Regions from separate parts of the Homo sapiens genome. Here regions 1 and 3 are each linked to region 2. Evidence: fine-mapped expression QTL. A gene starts in region 2. Each other region holds a variant in brackets. All regions are shown on one strand. Distances are between the middles of the regions. Region 1 overlaps BCO2 (beta-carotene oxygenase 2). Region 2 holds the start of LINC02762 (long intergenic non-protein coding RNA 2762). Region 3 holds the start of LINC02763 (long intergenic non-protein coding RNA 2763).

Region 1 (10,675 bases), 61 kb before region 2:
TATTTCTTTAGGAACTCCTATACTGTTTTTCATAATGGCTGTACCAATTTATATTCCCACCAACAATGTACTAGAGTTCCCTTTCTTCTACACCCTTGCCAACATTTGTTATCTCTTGTCTTTTTGATAATAGCCATCCTTATGAGTGTGAGGTTTTATATAGTGGTTTTAATTTGTATTTCCCTTATGGTTAGTGATGTTGAGCACCTTTTTATATGCCTATTGGACTTTCAAATTTTATTTTATTTTTTATTTTATTCTTTTAGGGACAGGATCTCACTCTGTTGCCCAGGCTGGGTGCAGTGGCATGATCATAGCTCACTGAAGCCTCAAACTCCTGGGAACACGTGATCCTCCTGCCTCAGCCTCCCAAGTAGCTGGGTCTACAGGTGCGTGGCACCACACTCAGCTAATATTTTAAAAACTTTTTTGTAGAGACAGGGTCTTATTATGTTGCCAAGGCTGCTGTCAAACTCCTGGGCATGCATGATCCTCCTGCCTCAGCCTCACAAGTAGCTGGGATTACAGGTGCATGGCACCACACTCAGCTAATATTTTTAAAACTTTTTTGTAGAGACAGGGGCCTTGTTATGTTGCCAAGGCTTTTCTCAAACTTCTGGGCTCAAGTGATCCTCCTGCCTCAGCCTCCCAAAGTGCTGGGATTACAAGTGTGAGCTACCACACCTGGCCTCTATTTTTGGAGAAATGACTGTTCAGGTCCATTGCCCATTTTTTATTTATTTTTAATTAATTAATTAATTAATTTATTTTTAACTTTTAATTAAAAAGTAAACTTTAATATTGAAAATGCAAACTTGGGGAAGACAGAAAAGATCACACACAAGGCTGTCACTTCACACTTGGAAGGTTGCGCAGCGGCCAGGCAGAGGCGCTCCTCACATCCTAGACGGGCGGCAGCTGGGCAGAGGTCCTCCTCACTTCCCAGACAGGGCGGGGGCCGGGCAGAGGCGCTCCTCACATCCCAGACAATGTGGGGGCCAGGCAGAGGCGCTCCTCACTTCCCAGACAGGGCAGCGGCCGGGCAGAGGCGCTCCTCACTTGCCAGAGGGTGGGCGGCTGGGCAGAGGCACTCCTGGGGCGGCAGGGGCGGCAGCTGGGCAGAGGTGTTCCTCAGTTCCCAGACGGTGGGCGGCCGGGCAGAGGCGCTCCTCACTTCCCAGACGGGGCGGCGGCCGGCTTTTCCCATTTTTTAATTGGGTTATTTGTTTTTCTGGTATTGAGTTGTAAGAGTTCTTTATAAATTTTGAGGCCAGGTGTGGTGGCTCACGCCTGTAATCCCAGCACTTTGGGAGGCCAAGGTGGGAGGATTGCTTGAGCCCAGCAGTTCAAGATCAGCCTGGGCAAGATGGCAAGACCTCATCTCTACAAAAAAATTTAAAAATATACAAATTTTGAGTATAATTCCTTATTGGATATGTGGTTGCAATTTTTTTCCCCAGCCCATAGGTCGCCTTTTCGTTTTGTTGATTGTTTCCTTTGCTGTGCAGAAACTTTTAAATTTGATGTCAACTTGTCAGTTTTTGCAAGGAAAAAACCTGATACAATATTGCAACTGTAGATCAATTTGGAGACAATTGACATCTTTACAATATTGAGTCTTCCAATCCATGAACATGGAATATCCCTCCATTTATTTGGGTCTTTTAAAATTTCTCTCAGTAAAGTTATAGTTTTCAGTATAAAGATACTACATTTCTTTTTGTGTGTTTTGAAATTATTGTAAATGGTATCTTTTAAGCTTTCATTTTCTGTTTGTTGCTCTTTATAGAAATGCAATTGATTTTGTATATTATCTTCATATCCAGAGATCTTGCTAAATTCACTTATTAGTTCAAATAGTTGATCCACAGATTATTTTGGATTTTCTATGTGCACAGTCATGTTACCTGAAAATAATGACAGCTTTCTTTCTAATACTTAGGGCTTTATTTCTTTTTCTCGCCTTACTGTACCAGCTAGGACTTCGAGTTGAATAGAAGTGCAAGATAGTGAATAGAAGTTGAATAGGTAGTGTTGAAAAATGTTTAATAATTCATTATTAAATATAAAATTGCTATAGGTATTTTTCTAGCTATCTTTATCAGATTATCCTAATAGTGCCTTTTAATGAATAAACATTCTTAACTTAATATGGCCCAGTATACAGTCTCTTCCTTTATGACTTATACGTTGTACATCTTGTTTTAGACATCTTCTCATGGCAAGGTAATGAAAATATTATCCTATGTTATCTTCTAGAGAAGTCAAGTATCTGTATATGCATTATTCTGTTTCTGGACTGTATATTCTGTTCCATTGTTTCTACTTATGGTTACTTGTGCACTGCATTAAAAAAGTCTTAAGGTTTAGTGTCAAGTTATCCTAATATTTTTCTTTTGAAAAGAGTGTCATGGCCATCCCTGGCCCTTCACGTTTTTGTAGAAATTTTAGAATCAGCTGTCAGTTCCCCACACAAAAATATGGTCACATTTTAATTCTATTTGCACTGAACCAATGTATCAATTTGAGAGAGGACTAACCTCTTTACACAATGTTGAGTCTTCCAGTACGTGAACACAATATATCTTTCCATTTATTTGAGACTTCTTTAATTTCTTTCAATGTTTATAGTTTTCTGGTTACATATTTTCTGCATCTTTTGTTAGATTTATTCCTAGGTTTTTTTTTTACATTATTTTAAATGTTGTTTATTTTTTGCTTTCATTTTATGTTAGTGTTGCTATATAGCAATTTTTTTTTTTTGAGACAGTGTGACGGTCTCACTCTGTCACCAAGGCTGGAGTGCAGTGGTGTGATCTCAGCTCACTGCAACCTCTGCCTCCTGAGTTCGAGCAATACTCCCACCTCAGCTTCCTGAGTAGCTGGGACTACAGGCATGTGCCACCATTCCTGGCTAATTTTCATATTTTTTTGGTAGAGATGGGGTTTCACCATGTTGGCCAGGCTGGTCTTGAACTCCTGACCTCAAGTGATCCACCCACCTTGGCCTCCCAAAGTGCTGGGATTACAGGAATGAGTCACCGCACCTGGCCGGCAATTGATTTTTGTTTGTTGATTTTATATTCACTAATATAGTAATTACACTTACAAATTCTAATAATTATAGATTCTTTTAGATTTTTACATCTATAATATCATATGCAAGTAATGATAGTTCCTTTTCTAACTCTACATGTAAGCTGTATATTGGCTTTTTTTTTTTTGTCTTATTTCACTGGATCTTCAGTACAGTGTTGAATATAAGTGATGATAATGGCATCCTTAACTTGTTCCCAATCTGAGAGGCAAAGCTTGCAGCATTTTACCATGAAGCATGCTGTGGCTGTAGATTAAAAAAATATAATAGAAACTGTCCCTTCTCGGGGGTCATGATGGGCAGCAAGATGCATCTGCTAGCAGTGTCGTTCAGGTAGTCAAGCCACATGCTCCATTAATAAGCTTCCCTGCTGGAAGAGACAATCCTAAACCCAATGTACCAGAAGCTCTGAGATCAGCAGGGCAACCATCTCACGATTCTGCAATTTCCCAGCATTCTAAGGGAAGTAAATTACTGGATTTGTGGATGTACCAGACACTGCAGAAGTAATGAAAACATTACCTCAGAAATATAGAAGTAAACTTGTGTCTCAAGAAGAAATTGAATTTGTCCATTGTGGAGATCCAGAATAATCACTGTGGCTGCTGTTTGTCATCAGACAAAAGAATTACCTTTACAATAAAGGACTTCCAAAAAAAAATAGACTGTTTTTTAGAGCAATTTTACTTTTAAAGAAAAATCAAGCAGAAAGTATGGAGAGTTTCCATATTTCCCTCTCCTGCTAATGGTACATTTGTTACAACTGATGAATCAATGTAGGAGTGTTACATTATTACTAACTAAAGTCCATACTTTACATGATGGTTAGGTCTGTGTTGTACAGTTCTACCGGTTTTGAAAAATGCATAATGTCATGTATCTACCAATATCATACAGAATAGTTCACTGCCCTGAAAATCTCCCTGTGCTCCCCCATTCGTCCCTTCCCCTTTCCTCCTCTCAGCCCCTGGAAACCACTGATCTTTTCACTATTTCTGTAGTTTTGACTTTTCCAGAATGTCACATAGTTGGAATCATACAGTATGTAGACTTTTCAGACTGACTTTTTTCACTTAGCAATATGCATTTAAGGTTCCTCTGTGTCTTTTGTGGCTTGAGAACTCATTTCTTTTTATCGCTGAAATGTGTATTCATTCATTTATTGAAGGACATCTTGGTTGGTTCCAATTCTTGGCAATTATGAATAAAGCTGTTATAAATATTTGTTAGCACGTTTTGTGTGGACAACTTTTTAAAAAGATACATTTTATTAGATTAGGAGAGTTCCCTTTTACTCCTAGTTTACTGAGATTTTTTGTCATGAATGGATGTTGGACTTTATCAACTGTTTTTTT[T/C]CTGCACTATTGAGATAATCATATAACGTTTATCCTTTATTCTGTGAACATGGTGAAGTACATTGACTGATTCTTTAAAAAATGTTCATAACAGCCATTGATTGATTTTTGAATGTTAAGCTACCCTTCCATTCCTGAAGTAAATCCCAATTGGTCGCATTTTATTTGCTTTTAAATATATTGCAGGATTTGCTTTGTTACTATTTTGTTTAGAATTCTTTGTATCTATGTTCATGAATAAAATTGCCCTTTAATTTTTTTCTTTTCTATAATGTTCTTACTAGGTTTTGGTTTTGTGGTTTTTCTAGTCTCATACAATGAGTTGGGAATTGTTCTCTGTTTTCCTTCTTTCTGGATGATATTGTATAGGATTGATATTATTTCTTAAATATTTGGAATAATTCAACAGTAAAGCCTTCCAGACTTGAAAATTTCCTTATAGGCAGATCTACAGTTCTAGAATATTGATTTGGTTCTCTTTTCCAATTTATAGTTCTCTACCACAATTCTCAGTTTAAAATAATTTCCTTAAACATATTTAGAATAGTTAAAGTCTGATAACTAGTATCTGGATCTTCTGTGATTCTGTTTCTGTTATCTGTTGTTTATTTTGGTTTTTAATCATGTTGCCTTGTCTTTTCATGTGCTGGTTATTTCCTTTCATTTGCAGAATATTGTGTTTTAAAAATTGTGGAAATATTTTGAGACACAAGATGATGTTATTTTCCTCTAGAGAAGAATTTCACTTGCTTATATAATTTGAAGCAGGATTCAGTCCATGCAAGAGCTGGACTATTTCTTGTTTATTCTTATTCATAGGGTACAGACCTATGAGGTCCCAACCCAAAGGACTAGAGGTTTACTAGGCCTTCCTCTTCTTGGAAAATCGTAAATTCAAACTTTTGTCACTCTAGCCCTCAAAACTATTGAAAAGCCCTTCTCTTTAAGGTTAAGGGGTAAGTGAGTTGCTATGGCTATACCCTTATCAAAAAGTAGCGTGAAGGATCCTTGTGGTGATGGATCTGTTCTGTATCTTGAGTGGCGTGGTGGGTACATGAATTTACACATGATAAAATAGCATAGAACTAAATACACGCACACACACACACACACACACACACACGAATGCATGTTAAACTAGAATAAGGTTGGTGGATTGTATCAATGTAAATTTCCCAGTTGTGATATTATATTATAATTATGCAAGACATTCCTACTGGCAAAAAAGGATGACGAATATATGGGAAATCTCTGTATTATTTCTTTTTTTATGGTGTAGAAAGTATATATATATAACATTAAATTTACCATTTTAACCATTTTAGGTGTTCAATTCAGTGGCATTAAGTAAATTCACAATGTTGTGCAACATCACCACTATCCATTTCCAGAACATTTTCATCATCTCAAACAGAAACTCTGTACCCATTAAACAATAATTCCCTGTTCCCCCCACCTCCAGTCCCTGGTAACCTCTATTCTACTTTCTGTTTCTATGAATTTGCCTATTTTAGGTACTTCATGTAAGTGGGGTCATACAATACTTGTCCTTTTGTGTCTGGCTTATTTCACTTAGCATAATGTTTTCAAAGTTCATCTATGTTGTAGCATGTATCAGAATTGCATTCCCTTTTAAGGTTAAATAATATTCGATTGTATACACACACACACACACACACACACACACACACAATATTTGTTTATTCATCTGTTGATGGATACTTGGGTTGTTTCCATCTTTGGAGTATTATGAATAATGCTGCTATGAACATTGGCATACAAATATCCAAATTCCTTTTTTTAGTTCTTTTAGGTATATATCTAGAAGTGGAATTGCTAGATCATGTAATTCTGTGTTTAACTTTTTGAGGAACAACCAAACTATTTTTCTACGGTGGCCACAGCATTTTTCTACCATCAGCAATGCACAAGAGTTCCAGTTCTTCACGTTTTTACCAACATTTGTTATTTTCTGGGTTTTAAAAAAATAATAACCATCCTAATGGGTGTGAAGTGATATCTCATTGTGGTTTTGATTTGCATTTTCCTAATGACTAATGATGTTGAGCATATGTTTAAGTAGTTAGGGAAAAACTTGCCCCAGTATCCAGTTGGTTTCTGTGGGTTTCCTTTTCATCCCAAACCTGGCCCCTTTGTTCTTCACTGTCTTTTTAGCTCACCAGTGCCTTCAGGCAGCTGTTTTAAACATTTTGTCCATAATTTCTAGTTGTTTTCAATGGGGTAGTTGATCCATATAATGTAATCTACCATTATTTGAAGCGTCTTTTGGGTTAGCTATGGTTTTGCAAGAGAAAACAATTGTAAATATAATTAAAAGTCATTTTTAAAAAGTTGGTAACTTCTGAAGCCATGGTGACCTTTTATAAAAAAAAAAGCTAATAACTTTATGAATCTTAAGAATAGCACTAAATCTTTACTCACTAAAAATATTTCTGCATGCTACAGAGATCATATAGACTAGGTATATGGGAGGAAATGGTGCAGTTTGTTCTCCATCCTACAGTATTTCAGAGAGGAAAATGGGCTTAAAGCACTTACTGTCAGGAAAAACACACTTACTTTATTTGGGTCTCCTGCTTAAACATCATCTCTATGGAGAAGCTGTGTTGGGAGTTCCCAGGATCACCCCTAGGTTTGATAATTCATTAGGAGGATTCATAAGACTCAAAATAGGTCAGGCGAGGTAGCTCACGCCTGTAATTCCAGCACTTTGGGAGCCCAAGGCAGGAGGACTGCTTGAGCCCAGGAGTTCGAGACAAGCCTGGGCAACATAGTGAGATACCATCTTTATTAAAAATTTTTAAAAAGACTCTATATAGTCATACTCATGACTCATGATTACAGTAAAAGGATACAAAGCAAAATAAGCAAAAGGAAAAGGCACATGAGATGAAGTCTAGAGGAAACCAGGTACATGCTTCCAAGAGTCCTTTCCCAGTAGAGTCACAATGGACATGCTTAATTCCTCCAGGAACTAGTGACAACATGTGTAAAATGTTGTCTGCCAAAGAAACCCACCCAAGCCTGCTTGTCCAGGGTTTTTATTGGGGATGAATCATATAAGCATAAAACCCCTACATGATGACCCTCAGTTACTGATGTTCCAGATCCTCAAGGGAATGGAGGTGTTCATTATAAATCACATTGTTAGCATAAACTATCTGGACAAACTACTGCAGAGTCACTTAAGGACTGGCACATGCAAGAACACTCTTATCAGACAGAACATCCCAAGAGCTCAGTTCCCAGCAACCAGCCCAAGGTCAGTCATGAAAACAAGTCTTTCTTGAAATAGTGCAGGGTTTGAGCAACCCAGGCTTACTAAGTTGATCCTTTTCCACACAGAGGTCTACCTGATCAAATCTGAAGAAGGAAAGCACCCTTTGTTACTCTCTAGTTTCTTACTCTTTGTTATATAATCATTTGTTTATTTGATGCTAATTAAATAACTTTTTTTTTTTTTTTTTTTTTTTTTTTTTGTGACGGAGTTTCACTCTTGTTGCCCAGGCTGGAGTGCAATGGCATGATCTCGGCTCACCGCAACTTCCACCTTCCAGGTTCAAGTGATTCTCCTGCCCCAGCCTCCCGAGTAGCTGGGATTAGAGGCATGAGCCACCATGCCCGGCTAATTTTGTATTTTTAGTAAAGACAGGGTTTCTCCATGTTGGTCAGGCTGGTCTTGAACTCTAGACCTCAGGTGATCCGCCTGCCTTGGCCTCCCAAAGTGCTGGGATTACAGGAATGAGCCACCGCACCTGGCCACAAATATTTTATAATTTTTAAATTTCTTTATTATCATTCCTCCACTAGAATATAAATTATATGAGGCCAAAGACTTTGCTTTATTCATGACTGTATCTCCAGTGTCTAAAACTGCTTGGGCTATAGTAGGTACTCAACAAATATTAAGTAGATGAATGAATGGAAATTATCATTTATTTAAATATTTAGGAATGCCAATGATGTTGACTGGATCTAAATTATTGGGACATACTGTTACCATATGAATGACAATTTTCATCTCTTTCTTCTTCCCAAACAGGTCCATAATTCAGCAGCCAAATCTTTCCCTCGAAGGTTTGTTTTGCCTTTAAATGTCAGTTTGAATGCCCCTGAGGGAGACAACCTGAGTCCATTGTCCTATACTTCAGCCAGTGCTGTGAAACAGGCTGATGGAACGGTATGCTATGAACAGACATTAGACTAAGACTTTGAACTTTAATGGTGTTACTTTATTCTTTAGCTGTTTTCCAAAATGTCTGGTACCCAATAACTTTTATAACATTCATCCGAGCAGGTTAAGGTTATGTAACATCGCTTGCACAAGAATTGCAGAAACAGTGGGAATGAACACAGTGTTTATCTATCCTTCCTGTGCTTTGAAACAGAGATATGGAACTGTCTAATGGTTGTGGAATGTCTATCCATTTGAGCTTGGCATTAGCAATCCCCACCTTTTATTTTTTATTTATTTTTATTTTTTGAGATGGAGTCTTGCTCTGGCGCCCAGACTGGAGTGCAGTGGTGCTATCTCGGCTCACTGCAGCCTCTGCCTCCTGGGTTCAAGCAATTCTCCTGCCTCAGCCTCTCGAGTAGCTGGGACTACAGGCACCTGTCACCACGCCCGGCTAATGTATTTGTATTTTTAGTTGAGATGGGGTTTTGCCATGTTGGCCAGGCTAGTCTCGAACTCCTGACCTCAGGTAATCCGCCCGCCTCAGCCTCCCAAAGTGCTGGGATTACAGGCTTGAGCCACCGCGTCCAGCTGCAATCCCCACCTTTTAGATAATATGTGCTTAGCACAGACCTATCATTGTGTAGCTGTCAATGCCTTAGCTTTAGAAGAATAAAACGCATATCTCCACCTCCTATGTCATTTGACAGCTTATTAATAAAACTTGATAATCATTATGCATCCACACATATGATGGAAAGAGGAACAATATTAAAACATGACATAGAACCTCAGTTCCCAAGCCCTGTCACAAACCTTTATAGGGTATGAGGCTCCTCACTGACCTACATAAGAGGAAAATAAGAATTAAGCAACCACTACAAATCCTTTTGAAATCTCTTTTAGATCTGGTGCTCTCATGAAAATCTACATCAGGAGGACCTAGAAAAGGAAGGAGGCATTGAATTTCCTCAGATCTACTATGATCGATTCAGTGGCAAAAAGTATCATTTCTTTTATGGCTGTGGCTTTCGGCATTTAGTGGGGGATTCTCTGATCAAGGTTGATGTGGTGAATAAGACACTGAAGGTGATGAAAAACTCTTTCCTTTTTGAACTTTTCAGAGACCTGTTCTTCCCTTTGAATTAGTTTGTTTTATTTAAAGTAGCTCTTAAGATTCTTCAGTATTTAAGCAGCTGAGCCATTTTCTTTTATTTGAGAACTATGAAATCATCTAAGTTAGGGGTATGTTCCTTCTAGGGAATCCAAATTGACCCCAGGCCCAGCAAAATAATTCTATGTTTGATTTTGATGTTATTTTGGGAGCAATTGTGGGGTTAGGGTTGTTAGGACACCTATATTTAAAGTTGATGGCAAATTATAGTTACACAAATTGTGTTTGATGGTGATGGAATCTGGGACTGCAAAGACTCCCTCTCTTTCTCCCATATTCAACTCAGTAGGCCTGATTCTTTTACTTTTGGAATATTCTATTGACAGCCTGTGTTAGTCTGTTCTGTGTTGTTATAAAGAAATCCCCGAGGCTGGATAATTTATAAAGAAAAGAGGTTTAGGCTGGGTGTGGTGGCTCACGCCTGTCATCTCAGCACTTTGGGAGGCCGAGGGGGATGGATCACAAGGTCAGGAAATCAAGACCATCCTGGCCAACACGGTGAAACCCTGTCTCTACTAAAAATACAAAAATTAGCTGGGCGTGGTGGCACATGCCTGTAATCCCAGCTAATTGGGAGGCTGAGCCAGGAGAATCACTTGAACCCAGGAGGTAGAGGTTGCAGTGAGCTGAAATTGCGCCACTGCACTCCAGCCTGGCGACAGTGCGAGATTCCGTCTCAAAAATCAAAACAAAACAAAACAAAAAAACAAAAAAAAACAAAAAAAAAAGGAAAAAGAAAAGAGGCTTATTTGGCTCATAGTTCTGTGGGATGTACCAGCATGGTACCAGCATCTGCTCAGCTTCTGATGAGGCCTCAGAAAGCTTAGAATCATGGCAGAAGGCAAAGAGGGAGC
Region 2 (10,675 bases):
TCAGCTTTTGAGAAGATGCATACCATTCTTCTCATTCCCCGAGGACTTACAAATTCTCAGAGAGGGGGAACACGCTGCTATGTATTACATTAAGAATTTTCAAGCAGGACTGGCCCTAAGAGATAATTTTAATCTAACTCCCTTATTATGTCTGAGAAAACTGAGCACAGAAAAATTAAACAACTTGCCCCAGGCTTAAGAACTACTTAGTGACAAAGTCAGGGCCAGATCCCGGCCTCCTTCCCACCAGCTGGGGATTCTCTCCACTGGACAGCTTACTATCTAGGGAATACATGTGTGCTCTGCTTAGCATTTCAGATTCAGACATATTCCAGATACAGCACATGTTAATTTTAATATGCCGTGTGTATATTTTGTTGTACGTGTGGGACACGTGCCTCATCTACTTACATTTGATAGAACTTGGAGAGAAGTTTATCACAGCAATAGTTAGTTGCTCTATCTTTGCTCAAGACTTTTTGTTGATCATATTTGTGTCTTCGTTTAATCCAAAATTGCATGTTGAGAGCACAGCTGGATCTGCACTGTGCTTTACTTGTGTTGCCTCGTTGGCCTACCGTGGTCAGTGGACTGGGGTTGGCTGGTTGAGCTGCTCCAGGTCACATGGCCTTCTGGGAAAATAACCCCTGCTTTATAGCAATTATTGCCAAACTCCAGGCTGGCAATGATCTTGATCAACTGTTTACCTGTTTTCATGGAATGACAGAGATGAGGGCAAAATTATGACAGTTTTTATAAAGAAAGAAATGTTGATTTGGTTTAAAGCCTGCCTTTTATTTTGATGTTATAGCTTTCTGATGTTTTGTTGTTCTTTCTTTTATGAAACTATAGTCATTGTAGATTATAGATGGTAGATTTTCCCCTCCTTCACCTATTTATTTACTTATTTTTTTATGTTTGCCTCGCACTAATAAACTTCTATTTTGCTCAAATTAGAGCAGTAATCTTCCATACATAAGTATCTTCCCTGCCCAATAATTTAAAGAAAAAATCCAAAATGATTAGTAAAGAAAAATATAAGAATTAACCGTCCCTTTAAATTTGTTTTAAATATTTTTAAGGTTTAAAAAGGGTTTAAAGTTTGTAATTCCTAGTAGGAAAATATTATCTGAATGAATACCCTAATGGCAAACCATGGTAAATGCTTCAGCTGCATTTGGGGGAGAGGGATATGGATTATCTTCAAAGCACCCCTGAGGTACGCTGGTTTGTATTATTGCAACATCCATAAGGTGATCTAGGTTGCTTTTCCTTCAGCACGGTCTTTATCAGAAGGACATTACTCTTGACCTCCAAATTTGGCTGACAATTTACTGATAAGATTCATAACCTTTGGGTTGCCCTGGTATTGTGACATATTTGCTGGGTTTTGAGCCACATCCTGGAAGAGGCCACCATAACTTTGGGATCCTGCACGGCTGCAAGAACCTCTGGATCACTAAGAATTTCATTGAGTCCAGTTATTCCGGCCATCCCAGGCATGCCCCCTCTCATTCCAAGCATTCCCCCAGGAAGTCCATCTGGAAAAGAGCCATACTGAGCTACTGACTGTCGTCTGGCTTCTTCCTCCCTCTGGGCTCTCTCTTGCTCTTCTCGAGCCTTCTTAACTCTTTCTATTCTTTCTTTGATCTCTCGCTCTTCACGTTTTTGCTCATACTTTCTCTGATGTTCCGCAATGTCTGTGCCCTAGGCTGAACTTCTTTCAGCATTGCACTAGCATCTTCATCATAATCCAATTTACAGGCAAGGGCAAGATCATGGGCTGCTCCTTCCCAGTGGCCTAGAAGTCTGTGTGCTTTACCTCGCCACTTGTAAGGCTGAGCTGAAATAAATTTCAACGGCTCTGTCACAGTCTCGGATGGCAGCATTTGGCTTCTGTAATTTGATGAAGACACTGGCCCTCTTGGCATACAAAATGGCCAACTGAGGATTCAGCTTGATGGCATCTGTGAATAAGTCAATGGCTTTCTGCAGTTCACCATCATTTAGGGCTTCAATAGCAGCCACTTTCTTATGATTTGCCTGATCCATCATCTCCTCTGTTATCTCTGCATTTTCATCTCCCATTTCTTGAGGGGCATCAGGGTCTGGTTCAATCACATCTTCATTATCAATTAATAGATTACTTTCCTCACTTGATGGTTCGTCTGCCTTTAAGTCTTCCTCCACCTTCTTACTATCAGGTTTTTCTTCCTTGGTATTTTCTTCTGATTTAACTTTCTGAGTAGCAGGTGATAGTTTACCCCCCATGCTCTCCACCCACTCCCTCAGGAAGTGCATTTCCTTGGTGTGCAGAACGCTCAGATCCTGCTTACACATTTTCACAAAAGCCCGAAGTGCATTCACTTTGTGGGGGTCCATGGTCGGGAGGCGGTGGACGAAGCTGAGGGGCCGTGGCCCGGTTCCAGGCCTAGGCACTGGCTCAGTGTGACTGCGCAGAAGGGGGCACCTATTTATTTTTTAAATGTCCTTATTTAACAAAATGAAAACGTAGCACCTATCTAGGTGCCTAAAATCCAAAGTTTTGAAACCAGAGATCTAAAAAGATTTAGTTTGCATCGTAACTTCCAGAAATGCCTTGCATTACTGTGGCAAAAAGCAGGAATTGCTAGCATTTAAGTAGGAGTAGGGAGGTTACGTCTCAAGAAGGGTGTTCAAGGACCCCTTTCTCACTGAGTAGGAGGTCAGATCTTTTAAGCTTCTCTTCCCAACATTAGAATCAGTCATCCCCCCAAAATTGGACATTTATTTCAGTCACTTTTAGGGAGAGATCAGTGTTGAGGGCACTTAGTGGTAGAGTGAGAGCAGGGGTTGGTGGGTGAGAAAGTGAAACTGGACAAGAGAAGTTGGGACTCAGAGCTTCCCAGTCCCCAAACAGAAGAGGAACTGGGAAGGTATTTCCAGCTGCGGAAGAGGAAGGTTTGGACACTCTCTTTACATGGCTAGTGTGGCTTCTTCCTTTGAGAGGAAAGAATTCTCTGCTTGAGAGGAAACCCACTGCAGGAACCTGAAGAGAACTAAGCCCACCTAGGTCAGTAACTGGAAACAAGTGGCTCTTCCTCTGTCCTGCATAGCTACACTTAGAAATTTCATGGAAAGGTGTGACATTTTATCAAGACATTTGGCTGCATTGCTCCTGCTGTTTAACCAGAGGATTCAGCAGCAAACAAAATAAGACAAAACAAAACAAAAAAACCAGGACGGTTTAATGAGTGGGACATGAATTGGAACAGGCAGGATGAACTGTGGGTTCCTGTGGTGGTCTGACAAGGATGTGACGAGGACACCTTTCCAGGGGCAAAGTCAAGGCCATGTGCTCTCACAGGAAATTCCCTTCGGTTAAGTTCCTGAAGAGTGTATTGATTTTCTGATACCCTGCCTTATTCAGGTAGGACTTAAAGCAGCTTACAGGAAAACAAGATTTAAAATGTAAGAAGTTAAGGATATAGGGAAAAGAAAGGTAGAGCAGAATGATAAGAGAAAGGTGGGGTTTGTGATCGTGGGAATTTCCGTGCTGGCATCTCCGTGTTGGTTCTGTTGTTGCAGGTACTGGGAGGAGGAGATGAACCCTGCTCCTGTGGAGGCTATGAGGTATTGATGTCGTGTACACATCCAAGGGGTGGTCTAATTATTTACAACTAGGCTCCTGAAAATCAGCCCTGAATCCAGCTTTCTACCTTCTCTTTTCAATATCATTTAATTAATTGAGTCACAGAAACAGCCTTTAATTCATTTAATTCCCTTACATTCTTCTAACTTCTGCCATATATCTCGTGATCTGTGATTTTTCCTTTTGCACTGATTTGATACTATGTAGTAGCAACTAAATATCGTTACTTATACCATAGCAGCTAATCTTTCTTATCAACAAAAACAAATAATGTCCACATTCCTGAAAACAATTAGGCTCTATTTCTAGCCTTGTGAACAAATGCAATTTTGTCACTTACATAATTTGTTATTGATAGAGTAACTTCAGAATTATTTGTAGTACTGCTTCCTGAGACATATAAAATCATATTAATGATTTTTAATAGCAATCAATAATAACATTTATTAAATACCCACGGTGCTTCGAATCTTTCAGTTGGTCAGTCAGCATTTATGTTCTTAATATCACTCCCAAAGCGTCATATAAACAACTTCTTTTTTTTTTTTTTGAGAGGGAGTCTCACTCTGTCACCCAGGCTGCAGTGCAATGGCACAATCTCAGCTCACTGCAACCTCCGCCTCCTGGGTTCAAGCGATTCTCCTGCCTCAGCCTCCCGAGTAGGTGGGATTATAGGCACCTGCCACCACACCGGGCTAATTTTTGTATTTTTAGTAGAGACGGGTTTTCACCATGTTGGCCAGGCTCATCTCAAACTCCTGACCTCAGGTGATCCGCCCGCCTCAGCCTCCCAAAGTGCTGGGATTACAGGCGTGAGCCACTGCACCCAGCCCATAAAAACAACTTCTAACCTCAGGAAGCCTACACTCCAATGGGAAACCAAGGGTGACCCCAGACCAATTTATGCGACTGCTTTATTTCCTTATCCACAAAGTGGGGAGAATGACAGTGCCCATCTCATAAGGCTGTTGGGAACTTTTAACGACATAATACTTGTGGAGCGTGATGGCTGGCATAGAGAAAGCACTGGATAACTGCTTGTTTTCCTTCTTCTTGTTATGATTGGAGAGATTCCGCGGAGGTGGTGCCTGGGAGCTGGCCACACCTCCCCCAGAGGGAATTTCCGAGTTTCACAGGTTTCTCTCCCTTCTGAGCAACGGCAGGTGAGTCAGGGTCGCTTGTGCTCCCCTCCAGCTCTGGGATGTATGCTGTCCAGCTGGTTACGAGTCTCCATGGCATCCGAGGAAAAGTGGAGCTGGCTGAAGGGAGGTGGAAAAGAAGGGCAACAAATTCCAGTTTCTTGTGAAACTTTGTAAACGTAAGGCTCTTATCTCAGTCTGCAGAGCAGAAACAGGGTGAGGGCCATGGATCTGAATGTCTCCACCTGTGCATAAAACATATGATTAGAGCTGAAGACCTAGAAGTCCCTTCCCCAGGCAGGGCATGAACTCTTCTGTTTCTAGAACCATTTAGGGAGGTGACAACTTGGCTTCGTCCCAGAGATTCAGGTGAGGACAGAACAGAGGGCAGGGTGTTCTTGCCCTGAGTTCCCCGCTAATGAGCTAATCCTGGCCCTTCACCTTTGTTTGGCATGAAGTTTACCAGAAAAGGGCATCCTGCCTTTATCCTTGGTTCTCTATACCCTCGCTACTTTTCCTGTGTTTTGTAAACACGGGATGGTGTATTTAGCTTTCTTTTGCTGGAATTATTTTCACCCCATGTCCTGTGTCTTCCTTGTCCAGAAGAAATCATCTTCTAGCCTAAGAGCTCCAGAGAAGGGTGTGCAGGGGACGGCCATGTTCTGATGCATGCATTCAGCTGTGTCGAACAGTCTTCCTGTTTTGCTACTGTCTGAGAATATTCTTTTCATTCTGTGGGCTCCTGGGCCTGGGCTTTCCTTGGCTTATCTCAGGAATCTGCCTCTTGGTCCCTTTCATTGGCTGCCTTCTATGTTTAGGTTTGTAGGGGAAGGCCCCTGGAAGGTGGGTGGGAGAAGAGGCACCTCTCAGGAGAGGCTGAGGCGCAAAGATGCTCTTGTCCACTCAAGTCCATATTTATTTATCTTCTAATATACTTTGTTTGTTAGTTTGTATGCTTGTTTGTTTTGAGGGTCTCCTTCTGTTACCCAGCCTAGAGTGCAGTGGTGCCATCATGGCTCACTGCAACCTCAATCTCCGAGCTCAATTGATCCGCTTGCCTCAGCCTCCTGAGTAGCCAGGACTACAGGTGAATGCCACCATGCCTGGCTAATTTTTTTTTTTTTTTTTTGTAGAGGGTTTTTTCCTGTTGCCCAGGCTGGTCTCAAACTCCTGGTCCCAAGTGATCCGCCTGCCTTAGCCTCCCAAAATGCTGGGATCACAGATGTGAGCCACCCTGCCTGGCCTTCTAATATAATTTGGATATTCCATGGATATTCCCACCTTGATCTACATTAGGAACTTCCTGGAGGCTTGTGCTCAAGAGAGGTAGTATCTGCTTGCTCAGCAAGCAGAGGCTGAGTAAGTGCAGGACTCTGAATATGGTTGTGCAGCAGAGTTGTGGGTATTTGTGGGGACGTTGACCTCAGGCCCAGCATTTAGATTTAGCTAGCAGACATGCCTGGGCAGCTAAACTGGCAATGTCAGACCAAACTGCCTGGCCTGATATTGCCAGGCAGTTTAGCGTATCAGGGCTCTGCTTAGAAGCCACAATGCCAAGGCCTCATGACCATATTCTTCCACCCTTGAGAATCTTGTCCACCTTCATATCCCTCCATTCCTCACGCATCATGTCCTGGGTGGGTGCCCTGACACCTCATTCTCACCTCCATCTCCTTGCTCACTCATGTTTTCCAGGTTGTACTTGAGAGAGCCTAGGCCTTAGCGGTAGAGTTGGTTTCAAGTTGCTGCCCTCCCATCCCCTGGAATGTAACTGGCTTTCTGGGACTTAGTTTTTTTCATTTGTAATGCCTGCCTTGTAGTCCCATTGTGAAAATTAATCAATAATTTGTTTTGAGGGTCCAATATGTGGCAGGCATTGTGGTAAGCTTTAGGGCAGGGGCATAAAGACCAGTTAAGATTTCTCCTTTTTAAAACTTTTATTTTTTTGTAGAGATGGAGTCTTGCTATGTTGCCCAGGCTGATCTTGAACTCTTGGCCTCAAGTAATCCTCCTACCTGGGCCTCCCAAAGGAATTACAGAATGAGCCACCATGCCTGGCTTATCCCTCTTTTTGAATAGCTTTTGGTTAGTGTTAAGAGGCAGGTTCATAAACATAATTTCAAAATAATGCGTAAATGCTAAGATAGAGGTAAGCCTTAGGAGTACAAAAGAAGGGAAAGAATGCTTTTTGGGTAAATGGTGGATGAGCTGGTTTTCTTTCTCTTTCTTTCTTTCTTTCTTTCTTTCTTTCTTTCTTTCTTTCTTTCTTTCTTTCTTTCCTTCTTCCTTCCTTCCTTCCTTCCTTCCTTCCTTCCTTCCTTCCTTCCTTTCTTTCCTTCCTTCCTTCCTTCCCCCCTCTCTCTCTCTCTTTCTTTCTTTCTTCTCTCTCTCTCTCTCTGGAGTTCAGTGGCGTGAATCATAGTTCACTGCAGTCTTAAACTTCTGGCCTCAAGCAATCCTCCTGCCTCAGCCTCCCAAAGCACTGAGATTACAGGTGTGAGTCACTGCAGCCATCCTGGATGAACTGTTTTGAAGGATAGGGGTAGGTTGGGGTGAATGTTCCTGGAAGAGAGAAGTGTGGAATTACAAAACAGTGTGATGTGAGCAGGGAACAATGAAAAGGTAATGTTCAAGAAAAAGAGTGACAGATGCTGTTGCTGGCAAGTAAATAGGGGCCAAGTCATGCTAGGTCTTATAGGTCATGCTAAGCATTTTGAATTCTATCTGTAGGCAACAGAGTTTTATTTTTATTTGTTTATTATTTTTATTTTTTTCACCCGGAGGTGAAACAATTTTATTTCACAGTTGCCTTTAAAACCTCAAAGATACTATTTTCTTCATATAAAAATATTAGTACTGGGGGGAGAGGCCAAGATGGCCAACTAGAAACATCTGTGGTCAGAGGCTCCCACTGGGAGGAACCAAAATGGCAAGTGAATCCTGCACCAGCAACCAGGGTATCCAGGTTCTCTCACTGGGACTGACTAAGCAGTTGATGTGACCCATGAAGAGTGAAGAAAAGCCGGGTGGTGCGACGGCCCACCTGGGAGCCACACGGGGAAAGGGCAGCTCCCACCCCAAGCCAAGGGAGGTGGTTAGTGATCATGCTACCCTGCTAGAAAACCGTACTTTTTCCACGGATCTGCGCAACCCACAGATCAGGAGATCCCACTTTTGAGCTACACTACCAGGGCCTTGGGTCCCAAGCACAGAGCTGTGCAGATTCTCAGCAGCCACTTGACTGGAGACTGCCTAAGACCCCAGTCAAGTGGCTGCTGAGAATCTGCACAGCTCTGTTAAGTTAACTCTGCACAGCTTTGTTAACAGCTCTGTTCTGTTAACTCTGCTAAGAGTTTCCAGGGGGGTGGGGGCAGCCATTATCACTGCAGCTGCCTGCTGCCTAAGATGACTGAGCTCCCCTGAGTTGGGGTGGTGGCCATCATTGCAGCTCATGTCTGCCATTTTTCCCCTGGTGGTTTCATCTAAGCTCATAAGGGAAAGGAATGAGTGGAAGATGTAGGGGAGCTCACTCAGCAGTGGAAGTTTTAAGTGGCAGAGAGGGAAGGTTTGCGATGGAGAGAATAGTGAGAACGGGAGGAGGAGGTTGGAGGAATGTTCTGTGGAGGACAAATGGTGAGACGGGCTTTCTCTGAGGACAATGGTTGTGGTGTGACTAGACTGGCTGGTCCCAAGGGTCCAAAGGGAAGCCACTAGCCTATTAGGGCTGGGCTGGAGCGTACAGGTTCTGGATCTGTAGGTCAGAGGTGGGGGGGTCCAGGAACATGCATTTTTTTTTTTTTGAGATAAGGTTACACTCTATGGCTCAGGATGGAGTGCGGTGATGCAATCACAGCTCACTGCATCCTCGACCTCCCCGGATTCAGGTGATCCTCCTGCCTCAACCTCCCTATAGCTGGGACTATAGGCATGCACCACCACACCTGGCCAGTTTTTGTATTTTTTGTAGAGATGGGATTTCATCATGTTGCCCAGGCTGGTCTTGAACTCCTGGGCTTAACTGACCCACCTGCCTTGGCCTCCCAAAGTTCTGGGATTACAGGCATGAGCCACCACACCCAGCCAGGAACATGCATTTTTAATAAGCAACCTGTGACAGTGATGCAGATGCTGAAGGCCCCACAAGATGCTTATTTAAAATGCATTTTCCTGGACCCCACTCCAGATTTAGGAGCCATAACTTTTTGTGTCATTTTAACCAGCTCCAAGGTGATTCTTATGTGCCCTCGAGTTTGAGCTCCCTGGCTGGAAGTCTTCGTGGTCTTGGGCACATAGTGTTAGGTGGCATTCACTGAGGTAATGTAGGTACAACACCTAGTACAGGGTCTGTCTGGTCAATGACAGTTATAATGCACACTGGGACCCTTGGTGACATTGGTGGCTTACAGGAGGGTATGCAGGTCCAGTTCATTCCGGTAAGAGACTGATTATTAGCCGATGCACACAGCATCCAGAGGATGGGGGAAATATTTCTTCACTTTCTTGGAATATTTCTACTCCTTCTTGGTCACACCTCTGGGGGGCTGTCTTGCTCTGGTCTCCCTTCCTCTTACGCAGTCCTCTTCATCTTTCATATCTGCTGGCCTTTCTAGGTCCTACTGCAGTTCTGAAGGGGAGGATCATCCTGGGAGGTCCATGTGTGCCCAGGGAGCTCAGGCCCTTCAGTATCTTTGGTGTAGACCGTGAACAAGACACACAGCAATGACTACCTCTCCTGGCACCTTCAACACTATTTTGTGAACAGTTTATCTCTTTTCTCTGTCTTTTTCTCTGTCTTACTGATGGCTCCTCAGAAGTGAGTAGAGGGGAAAAGGAAGGAAAGGGGTGATGGGATGAAGTCCTTTCTGCTCCCATTATCATTCAGATTGAGATTGAATCAGTCATGTAAATGAATGGGCAGATGGACATCCTGCATACCGACCTTATGTATTATTATTATTATTATTTATTTTTTTTTGTAAAGATGGGGTCTCCATATGTTGCCCAGGAGCAAAGACCATGACTTATTTGGGCTAATGTCAGTTCCTTTCTTCTCTAACTATTCACAGTTAAAGACATTGATGACCTCCTCCCATAAACCTAGGCTAGCTCTAATTTTTTTTTTTCTTTGAGACAGGGTCTTGCTCTGTAGCACTGTCTCAAAGCCTGAAGTGCAGTAGTGAAATCACAGGTCACTGCAGCCTTGAATTTCTGGGCCCAAGGGATGCACCTGCCTCGGCTTCTTAAAGCACTGGGATTGTACTTAGATTTTAAGTCGGGTTTAAATCCTACCTTTGGTAGCCAGTCCTTCCCATTTCCTCCAGGGCACATGAATCTGAAGCTCTTGAAATTCTAATCAGTGGCACAGTAGTCAGAGTTTGAATTAAGCAAATGTTTATTGAGCTGTGCTGGTTCTAGATGCTTTGGGCAGTCCACATAAAAGACCTCAGTGACTAGTAAATGGAAAACTCAGGAAATGTCAGTGGTGTTGAGACATCCCTTAGAGAAAGGAGAAAGGAGACCTAGGAGGGGCTGGTGTAAAACCTCTCTGAGCAAGGCGAGAGGGAGAGAGCCAGAGAGAGGGCTGGAAAAATCACAGCAAGTAAAAAAGAAAAATGAGAAGACAACTGCAAGTGAAATGAACTTGGTGAGCTTATGTGTGAATGGCCAGGTTTCTAAGCCAGGGGAATCAGATCAGGTGGCGGGTGATGATCTTATGACCTGTGGATCCTGGAAGGGCAGGGAGGAGAGGTGAACATCAGTAAGTGAGGAGAAAGAGTAAGCAAGCAAACAAACAAACAAGAAAACAAACAAAACCAAAACCCTTGAATCAGTCATGTAAATGAACAGTCAGATAAACATCCTGTGTACTGACATAACCAAGGGTCGCAGTGCATGCCCTAACTAT
Region 3 (10,675 bases), 210 kb after region 2:
CGGGTGACTCTGAAACTTCTCACTGGGTTGCACCTCTCCAAGCACCGGCAGTAACTGAATGTGTAGACGAGGACCCTGCAGTCAACCTTCCTGGGGTTCCGGGAATCCTCGCCTATGGTGTTCCAAAAGATCCTGGAGGAGACACAGAAAATCCAGTTTGTGGGGAAAGAATGCGTTCCATTGTCGAGGAACTTCAGTTGCTAGAAAGCTGCTTCTCAGATTGAACTTTGCAGAGTCAGGCTTGCCAGTCAGCACTCAAGTGCCAGTCTATTCCCTCTTGGGTATTTTGATTTCAATTAGGAGACCTTGTTTATTGTGTTAAGGTCTCAAGTGTTTAGCTTCCCAAAGACATGTTTAGTCGTAAGGAAAAAATCTTTCTTTAAAATATCGAGCTCTCTATTAAAAACAAATGAAAAACACAGAAAGAAAAAAACGGAACAAAAAATATCAAATAAAACCCAACCATTATTCCTTGAATAAAATGGATCTTTCCCCCTAAATTTTCAATATTAAGTTTAAATCTTTTTGGATTATGGGCATAGCTTTGGGGATTCAGTCATCTTTTTCATTTACAGGTGAGAAACTTTCGGTCCAGGAAGTTACTTACTGTGTACTTACATAATAATAAGTACACTTACTGTGTACTTATCTAAGTGTACACAGTAAGTATTAGGGCTAGGATTTGAATTCTGTTCTGCTCTGAGACAGAGCCCATGTATTTTCTACCATTCCACACACAGCGTGGAGCCTCTGACAGGTAGAAATTCAATATATGGGCCGGACGTGATGGCTCATGTAACCCCAGCACTTTGGGAGGCCAAGGCGGGCGGATCACGAGGTCAGGAGTTCGAGACCAGCCTGGCCAACATTGTGAAACCCCGTCTCTACTAAAAATACAAAAAATTAGCTGGGCGTGGTGGCAGGTGCCTGTAATCCCAGCTACTGGGGAAGCTGAGGCAGGATAATGGCTTGAACCTGGGAGGTGGAGGTTGCAGTGAGCCGAGATCGCACCATTGCACTCCAGCCTGGGCAACAGAGCGAGACTCTGTCTGGTAAAAAAAAAATTCAATATATGACTGCTTTCTGAAAACCAAAGAGGCAGCCTTAGTTTGTTGAGCAGTTTTTCTTCTCTACTCCTGAAACAGAACTACACGGGTCACCTGCCTTTGCCAGAATGAAGAAACCCTCACTTCCGACTGGTACAGTAAGTTTTCTCTCTACTTGACTTTCTCTTTCTCACGACTGTCTTTTTTAATTTTTGGTAAAAACTTACTCTAAGCTTAATCTTTTCCAAAGTTACTTATTTGAGTTTGTCCACTAGAGTCCTCATAAGAACCAGCCCTACAGGTTGGTAATAAAGCCTCAGTTTACTCTGGACACCACTGTTTTCTCAAAGGGCTAGGACTCCTTGCAGAACGGCATGTGGACAGCACATTCAGACAAGACCTAATAAGGGCATTGAACGTCACTCAATAGTAAGCACTGGCCGTGTACGTACCAAACACTGAGTTAGCAGGTGGATTTCATATCCATACAGAGTTGCGTTGAATAGTTTTTTGAACGTATGTGGAGGCATATGTAATATATTGCAAGTAAATGAAAAACAAGAAGAGATATTTAAGAAGTAGTTTTGCCAGTGGGTCAAGGATCTCAGGCCGCAGAACTGTCCATTAGTCCTGAAGCTTTCATCAGTCTCTGAAGACAACACAGCCACTATCTGGGAACATCATTAGCCTCAAAGAGGTCTCCTCCTGCCTTTTGGAGTTTTATGAATGTCCATCCTCCTGCAAGGTGACTTTGAGAGCTTGGCCAGGGACCTGTGCTCTTTTGTCAGTGTGCATGAACTTGATATGTCCTTAAAAATATGTATATGTAATGTTGCCTGTTGAGTACCTCCTCACAGCCAGGAACTTGTGATCAATTACATCTCATTTTCCTAACCCCCTGTGAGCAATAGTATGCCTCTTTTTCAGATGAAGAAAGTGAGGCAGTGCAGAGGTTAAGTAACTTGCTAAGGTCATATAATAAGTGGCAGAACTGGATTCAACCCTGGGTTGGCTTAACTCTCTTTGTTCTTCTCCTTCCTTCTTTTGTGCTCCAGAATGATCAACTTAAAGAACCCTAGGGTTGTCTGTTGTAGAAATCAACTCTTTAATCATCAGCAGCTGCATTTCTCCTGGGATGCTCTGGTGGAAATGGCTGCACAGCACACTCTCTTCTGGTCCACTGGTCTACATGGGAGAGATGGAGGTCAGGGCATTGCCTCCTATGGATAGAGATCCCCAGGGCTGACACGGGGGCAGTTCTACTGGGGTTGGATATGTGCTTCATGATGACTGCCGTGACATAGCTACAAGATATCTACAGCCACCCTAAGGCCAACAACGTCAGTTAAGTGCCTGGCCTAACTGCTTTCCAGAGGGTCAGGGTTTGGGGGGTTGGGGAGGGGTGGCTGGTGGGAGTAGGAGAGGATCACGTTATTTTCTGCAGATCCCACTGCTCTCTCTTGCTTCCTATTGTCTCCGCTGAGTGACATTTGCACCAGCTGCTTCCAAAGGGAGTAGCTTTGGTGAAATGTCACCGGCTTCAGCGGGGATGGCCCTTCTCCATCCTTCATTTCTTCCCCTAATCCTCCCTTCCACCCCTCAAGTGCCTTTTTTATTTTGAAAGGACACTGCCTGGAAATTCAATTGCAGGAAAAAGTAATTACATTTTCTCTTCAGGTGTGCCTCTCAAAAAGCCTTCAAATCATCTCCGGCCAAAGCACTGGGATTATTCCAAAGGGAAACAGGTATTAGTGGCAGCTTTGACGGCTTCCCTCTCTGGGTCTCACTGCTGCTTTTCTCCATGCTTAGGGCCACAATGACAGAGTGGTCGATTGCTTTGCCTCCCTCCCTTCTGCCACCCTCTCCCAGCAGAGGTCAAGGTCTCATTCAATGTCACACAAATAGTAAGTGGTGGGGCTCACCTGGCTTTGCAGCTGGGTCTGTTCAACTCCACAGCTATGCTTTTAATAACTTTGCTATGCAATTGCAGTGACTATATTTGCAGAACCAAAAATTGAGAGGCATGATCTGACAAATATTTTCAATTCCTGATTTATTGCTTTTTTTTTCCAAATTTTTAACATGAAAAGCCACACAAAGGTACAAAAATGAAATCACGTTTTGTTACGCACACATCTAAGTAACATGATCATTATTGGAAAGAAGAAATTACATAAGATTGAAATTGTCCCAATCGTATATTGGGAAATCCAGCTCATAGAGTTGCTATTTGGTGAGAATTGCACTTGACCAGGAGCTAAGAGTCTTAGGTTCTGGTCCAGGTTTGACTTTTAACCAGTTGTGTTTTCTTGATTAATTTACTTCACCCCTCTGGGCCTTATTTTCTCAGTTGGTGAAGTGAGAGAGAATTGGCTCAGATGATGTCTCAGGGCCTTCCCAGGGCCTTCCTAGCACTGATGTTCAATGGCCTTGTAATTCTAGGTATAGACTTCATCGGGGCTGTCAGCGACACACAGATGAGATCCTTCCTTTGGAAATGAGTTTTGTTCCTCTCCTGCTTTAGATTAATCCTGGCAACATCTGAATCCAGCCCTTTGTTGTCTGGAACCCTCTCATGTTCCCTGGGAGCCTACTATTTTTTATAGGCTGAACCCTGGGAACATATTTTTCTGATTTTTCCAGGAAAATGATCTCTGTTTGGACTCAGCTCATTGCTTGCTTCTTTCCCTTTCTTCAACCTAGACCCCCACCTTCTTCTGTCTACCCTCCCCTGCACATCTCAGCCCCTCCCTTCCTGCTGCTTCTAATCGATGCCTCCCCAGTATCTCCTGCTCTCTTTTGCATTTCAGTCATTCTCTGCACATAAATCGAGGTTCAGCATTCCCTGTATGGAAAGGGACAAGAAAACAAGGCCAGCCATGCTTGGCTCGACTGTCGCTGCACAGCCATCTCTCTTCCCCTCCCATCTTTTCCTTTCCTCCCCATTGCATTTAAGTTTTTCTGCACTTTCCACACATCTGAGACTGTGCTATTGAAGATAACCAGAGAGTCTATTCTTGAAGCCCAATAGCAGTTTCTCCTGGCTTTCCTTGACCTTTCTGCAGCTTCTGGCACTGGCACCTTTACCCTTTGAAACACTCATAACTGGCTTCAATTCTCACTACACTGTCCGACTCTGTCTCCTTCATTTTGTACTCATCCTTTATAAGTGGACATGTCAGAGGTCCTGACTCTGACTCATTTTCTACGCTTTCTCTGAGATTTCACCTATCCTTGTTGCTTCTACTAAATCTCTTTGAGGTTTGACATCAAGTTTCTATCAGCCCCATGCACATCTTCATTTGGGTGTTCCATTATCACCTTACTCAACATGTTTGCAAGAAACTTACCATCCTCAATCAAAACCCGCTTCTCCTCTAGATTTCCCACTGCTGTCGATTTTCTGTCAGTTAAGTGGGTTTGAAATCTAGTCAATGTCCCTCAATCCACTTTCTTCCTCACCCACTCCTCCAACCAGTCACTGCAACTGATCTATTTGTTATCCATACGTCTCTTACATACGTCTGCATACGTCCCTCCTATTTCCACTGCTACCTTCCCGATTCTGATTCACACAAAGAATCTCTTTACTAGTCTTTAATTTCTTGATTCTCCAACCCATCCTATTTTCCTCTATGCCAATACCCTTCCGAAAATATCACTTTGCACATTTCTCTGTATCCTTCTGCTTCCTGTGTTCTCAATCACTAAACAAACTTTCAGAAGTTCCCAGAATAACACCCCAAACTCTCAGGCTGACATTGAAAGGCATCCAAAAAGTGGCCCTAATCTATTCTATTCTCACTTCTCATTAGTTCCCACATAAATACAATTTCCTGTAGATAAAAACATATACTTTGTCTGCCCTTTTGTTTATCTAGAGCTTGCTCCTCCTCAGTCCCATGTGCTTGGGCAAGAAAATGGGCCTCCATGAGTGTGATTCTGCACCTATAAAATGGTCATGATCCCTTCTCTGATTTCCTTTGGGGGGTTGTGAGGATGAAATTTACTTATTCAAGAAGCATTTACTGGAGAGGTCCTGGGGACTGGCAAAGATAAATAAGTTACCATCTCTCCCCACTAGGTTGCCCAGGTAATTTGAGGAAGCATACACTTAAAAAACCCACATTGTCAGTAGGATGGGGTGAGCAAGAGTTCGCTGGCACGCACACTGTGCCCCAGCTTGGCCCCACTCCACCAGCCTGAGTCCTGCTCAGCTCCTTTCTAAGCCACCCTCCATCAAGGACTACCTGTCCTCCTCCCTTTCCTCAGGGCCCAGCTCTCCCTAATGTGAAAATGAGTGATAATGGATGCTAATTTAATGTGTTACTTCTTCCAGGTGACATATTTACATTTTAATAGCAGAAAATTCAAAGGAGGATATTTTAAGCACTGTGGCAGTGGGTGGGGACATATTTTGAGTTAGGGAGGATTTGGGGGACCTTAAATCACACTGGATAGGCACCCACTGATTCTACCTCCTAGGATTGGCTGCCCTCGGGAGTCCAGAGATGAGGATCGCCTCCCTGGGCTGTGCCCCCTCCGTATCTGATGGGAGTACTACAGAGTGTCGGACTCCCGGGGCAATGATGGATGAGACATCTGCTCCATGATGGGCTATTACCAACAATTCATTACTGCAAAATGGATTTACCCTAATTAGCCCAGGAGCTCTGAGTTTAATGTGGCATTCTGCAATCTCACAGATTCTGCTGCACACATTGAAGGGGTGCATCACATTTTACAGAGCCAAGAAACCTGAACTACAGAAAACAATGGAGATTTAGCATGCCTCTTGAATTAGTTGACATATTTACTCTTCATGAATAAGCCTGTTTTGTAGACAAACACTGTAGCTCACAGTCTCATTATTAGAAATTAATTCGCTCCACTGCTCTGCCCAAGGGCACAGTTCTCCTTGGGGAACAGTTTTGCCCTTATCATG[C/T]TAGTGCTTGCAGTAGGTGACTGGGTTTCTGAAGTTCTGGCCTGGGAATGTTTCTCTAGGGGCAGTTCTGGGAAATGGGCTGAGTCTGTAGGTCTCTGCAGGCCCTTCATCATGAGTCACCTGTGTGAAATTTGCACCTTCTGCATGGGAGCATTTGGGAAGATTTCTTTTTCCCTTTGTAATATGTCCCAGCAAAACCATCATCATATATCCACAGTTTGGGGAAGAGTGAATTATCCAGAACAGTATTCACTTCAAATAATGTGTGACAGACACAGTGTCAATTTCCTAAACTTCTGATATTATAGGTACTGCTGTTGATGCATGAACTCCCTGCCCGGGTTTAGCTTATCCTTGGGAAATTACCCAGCCATTTGTCACATCCTCACAAATGACAGTTCTTCTGGGCTTCTTTTTCTCCAATAGCTCCGGGATCTCTGAGGTCTCTTCTAGATAGAAGATTCTATGTTGCCATCTCCCAAATCAGCAACTGGGGGATTTTTTTTAAAACCCAGGCCCCAAATTGCAGATGTCCCACCTCAATGCTGGTGGTAATGGTGGATGAGGGAGATAACATTTTGGGGGCCAAAGCGCAGTCATTACTTTCTTTTTTCCCTTAGGAGTTAAACTTGCTAATTCATTTCTCTCACTCTGTTAGGTCTCACAAATACAGGCAGTAACCTGTCTTCAGGCTTAAAAGTGCTTATTCATTTAGCCATTTATTCCTTTCACAAATATTTATTGAATGCTCATTAAGTGCAAAGCACTCTGTTAGGTGCTGGGGTTGTACTGGACATGGGGTTTCCCCTAAACAGCAAGAGACTGTTTAGCTCCAGCACAGACACAATCCAATTAGATTTTTTTATCAAGTACTTGTTATGTATTTGTAGTGGATCAGGCCCTGGGGTACAGGAAACCCAGACACTCCCTGAAAGGTACTCACGCCAGGCACACATGCTGTTCTCTGAGGTCAGATTAAGACGAAAGCTTTTGTGCGTAGTATTTTTTCTTCTCTCACACAGCCGGCTTCTTTCCTGCTTAGTGAAGGGGACTCCCAGCCCACCTTTCCAGACCACATTTCCATTAGGATGCTCATTCTAGATTTTGGTGATTTCCCATCTGGATTACATGGAACTATTGGGAAAATGTCCTTACTTTTCAGCAGAAATTTTTATCAGCTGTCTCACCAGCTTAAGCGTTCTTTCTCACCACCAACTTTCTATTCATTTTTATATTCCCATCCTTATCCTGATAGAAAAATCAAGGATCCTGTATAATTTCCACTTAGAACAGGCTGTGTGACTTGGGGCAAGTTTTTATCGTTCTCCTCCCTTTCCTCAGAGAAAGGGAGGATCCTGTATAATTTCCAAGGATCCTCCTGTATAATTTTCATGGACATTTGGGTTGTTTCTACTTTTTGTCTATTATGAATAAGGCTGCTATGAACAGTCATATAGAAATTTAGGTTTTCACTTCTCTCGGGAGGAGTAGAATTGCTGGGTCACAGGGTGATTCTATGTTTACCATTTGGTGGAAATGCCAGACTGCGTCATTTCACATTTCTACCAGCAATTGGTCATTAATTCTCCATCAAGGCAGTGACCAGCCACTCTCTCTGAAGAGTATAAGGAAAAGAAGCTACAGTTCCCACTCCTGTTGCTGGTTTTAGGCCGTAACGAATATTCATTGCTCAACCACCTCCATGACTGATTCTAGATTTCTCTCACCTCTAGCTAGGTTGCTTTTCCAGTGGGTTGCTGAGTATGCTTTTCAACTTTAAAGTGCATTGAATCACCTGAGAATTGTGTTAAAATGCAGAATCTGATTCAGTGGTCTGGGGAGGGACCTGGGCTTCTGCATTTCTAGAAGCTCTCAGGTGGTGTTGATGCTGCTTGTCCGTGGGCATGTTTGGGTAGCAAAGAACTAGGCTATGTTTACCCTTGCTTGCCATTCCCTTGCTAAACCATGGTTGCTGCAATTGCCCCTTTATAGTTTTTGCTGGGTTTCAAGCACCTAGAAAAGCCCCACTGAAACCCCTGGGTTCTAGAAAGAATCTTTCCTCCTCCTGTTGTGCAGCCACAACTCTAGCTTCTTCTGGTAATCAGGGTTATTAATCCCACCAGTATGATAACTCCTGTGTTGTCCATTAGCATGAGGTGTGCCAAGTGACTAAGTGGTAGTCAGCTTTAAGTTCAGTGGAACCTCACTGGCAGAAGAGTTTCTTCCCTGACAACCAGACCTCTTATCCAGCAGGGTCCAGGCTATAGACTGCACAAATTCTGAGTGAGTGGGAAGGATGATGAGAGAGACAAGTCCTACATCCACTCCTTGGTTCCCAGACTGTGTATCCCTGCTGTTTGGGACACAGCACCATATACAATGCCAACATCATTCATTGCTCAGTGCACATACCACATCACCAGTGATTGTGTCCTAACCCTTTGGTGTGTTGTTACAGGGCAGGTGCCTTTGCTCATTCTGCCATTCCTTCAGGATGCTGCTTCTGGATGATGGGGGCCTTAGTAAGACTGGTGAATTCCATGATCACACATGCATTGTGTGGTAAAGTGGCCCTAGGAGCCAGCATTGGTGACTGGGTGGCTGTTGGGTGAAGCTGGTTACCATAGAACTGCTGTCTGGTCACAGCAGTGCAGAGCTGGTCACTGGTGACAATAGAGGTGGAACAGTGGTAAAGGGCCCAAGACAGATGAGGCTGAGGGGATCTGAGAAGATGCATAAGAAGAGTCTCATACAGAGGGCTTGTGGCTTAGAAAGCAAAATACAAACACAAGGCAGAAGAGACACTGACCTCCATGGGAGTTTCAACCTAGTTAGGGTGGAGGGGTGAGCATGGCGTGGAGTAGGTGAGGGGCTTTCAAGCACAGGTACGACAGAACCTGGTCTTGCAGGTCATGCGGACACGAGACTGGTGGAAACGGGAAAGTATTCCAGATGGTCATGGGCAGTGTCAAGAAGAACCCAGATGTGGGAGTGCATGAGTTTATTTAGGGGCTTGAACACAGACAAGTTTGGAGCTGGTTTGTGGGAAGGAATAATAAAATAATTTTAGTAGTGATAGGTAACTTTTATTGAGCCTGTATTGTATGCCTGACACCATTCTGAACTCTTACATGGATTACCTTATTTAAACCTCACAACTACTCCTTAAGGAGACAAGGTCAGTATTTGGGGGTATTTTGAAGAACCATCCAAAGAGTTGGGTCTTTACCATTGCCAAACTAGCACTGGAATAGCTGTGGGCCCCATGAAGACAGGGCCAATTTCTTGCTAACTTTTATATGCTTCGTTCTTTATATAGAGCCTGGCAAATGGGAAAGTATCCATGATATCACTGAATGTTACTAACAGCTATCCCTAACAATGCCCTCAGTGTATACCAGGCACTGTTGAAAGTGCTTGACATGGAAGAAGTTATTTAATCCTCACATAATCCTGTAAGGTAGGCACTAGTATTATACCCATTTTACAGATGAGAAAGTTGAGGCACAGAGATATTAAGTGACTTGTCCAAAGTAACAAAGAAAGAGGGGGCCAATGCCGGGCTTTGGACTCACATAGTCTGGCTTTAGAGTCCACACATTTAGTTAGTATGCCACATGGCCTCTCAAAAACCATTTAGGAGAAAGATTTGGAAATTCTATTGGAAATTAAATGATGGGGAAGGTTTTAAGCCTGGGTTGGTGGGAAGACAGGTGAACAGTTGTTTTAGGGGGTAAGAGGATGTACTTCATTGGGTCATCTATGGTCTCTCTGTTTCCTCCAGAGAGAAGGCATATGCTTCAGGCCTCAAGTATCAGCAGACGTGCAGCTCTGAACATCAGTAGGTGGTTTGTGTGTACATGTTTTCTCTTTTTTTCCCTACAGTGTATTTACACTCAAGATTGAGATAAACATCCATTTGCTTTAACACATGTGAAAATACCTTAGCAACTTCCTGCAGCTCTGGTCTGTTGCTAAGCAGTGACCCTACTGCTACCATGGCAACATCAGAGACTCCGGAGTGCTGCTGGTACCAGCCTCCTGTTCCTGACAAGACTTTGGGAAACTGTTAGCAGGGCCTTAGGAGCACTTTTGCTCTTGGGGGGCAGCCTTGCTCTATTGCTCGTTGGCACTGAGGGAAGCTCTCTGGGGAGAGGAGCCCACCAATGCTTGGCTGACAAGACCTCAGTCATGTCTGATGTGGCTTCACCTTTGCTGCCGTCTTCGTATCACTAGGGGAGCCCTGTGGAGTGGGGTGGAGTTCAAGATGGATTCTCAAGAAGTTATAGGAAGCTCTTTATCAATTCAATTCCTGAGAAGGGCCCACTTCAGGTACCTCCACCCAGCAGAGAGGAGCTATGGTACACCTTGGGGTGTGATCAGGCGAGACGACTATGTCCCTCAAGGGTTCTCAGTAGAAACAGAATCTTGCTCAGAGGTTTAGGAGACTTCACTGAAGGAACTGCTTACAGCAGTGTAGGCAGGACCAGGGGAACAGGTGATGGGTAGTGATGCCCCTGAAATAACAGCAGGAAGCCATTACCACCCCGAGCACTGAAGGGACAAGAGGAGGAAATGGCTTTATAGAAATGATATTCCAGTTTTAAAGCTGGTACCATGGAGCAGGGGCCACTCAGCAGAAGAGACAGTATGGGATGCAAATATTGCGAGAGATACAGCTCTG

Evidence for each region. PIP is the estimated chance that this variant, and not a neighbour inherited with it, causes the effect. A credible set is the group of variants that fine-mapping cannot tell apart.
Region 1: its variant is the best candidate, but not a certain one, in a credible set for the expression of LINC02762 in whole blood (TOPMed, PIP 0.59).
Region 3: its variant is the best candidate, but not a certain one, in a credible set for the expression of LINC02762 in nasal epithelium (TOPMed, PIP 0.59).

The regions. Positions count from the first base shown.
Region 1 is chr11:112,205,209-112,215,883 of GRCh38, forward strand. BCO2 (beta-carotene oxygenase 2) reads left to right here. Exons shown (of 12, transcript NM_031938.7): 9 at 8,516-8,653; 10 at 9,554-9,736. It also overlaps the pseudogene MRPS36P4. Among named protein-coding and RNA genes, the nearest start is that of PTS, 16 kb to the right of the region's middle. The variant T/C (reference allele first, on the strand shown) is at 4,453.
Region 2 is chr11:112,265,990-112,276,664 of GRCh38, forward strand. LINC02762 (long intergenic non-protein coding RNA 2762) reads left to right here and starts at 4,760. Exons shown (of 4, transcript NR_126004.1): 1 at 4,760-4,794. It also overlaps the pseudogene ST13P10.
Region 3 is chr11:112,472,133-112,482,807 of GRCh38, forward strand. It overlaps LINC02763 (long intergenic non-protein coding RNA 2763), which reads left to right and starts at 10,100. Exons shown (of 3, transcript NR_120559.1): 1 at 10,100-10,323. It overlaps LOC107984389 (a long non-coding RNA gene), which reads left to right. Exons shown (of 3, transcript XR_001748387.1): 2 at 1,146-1,204; 3 at 2,102-2,375. The variant C/T (reference allele first, on the strand shown) is at 5,992.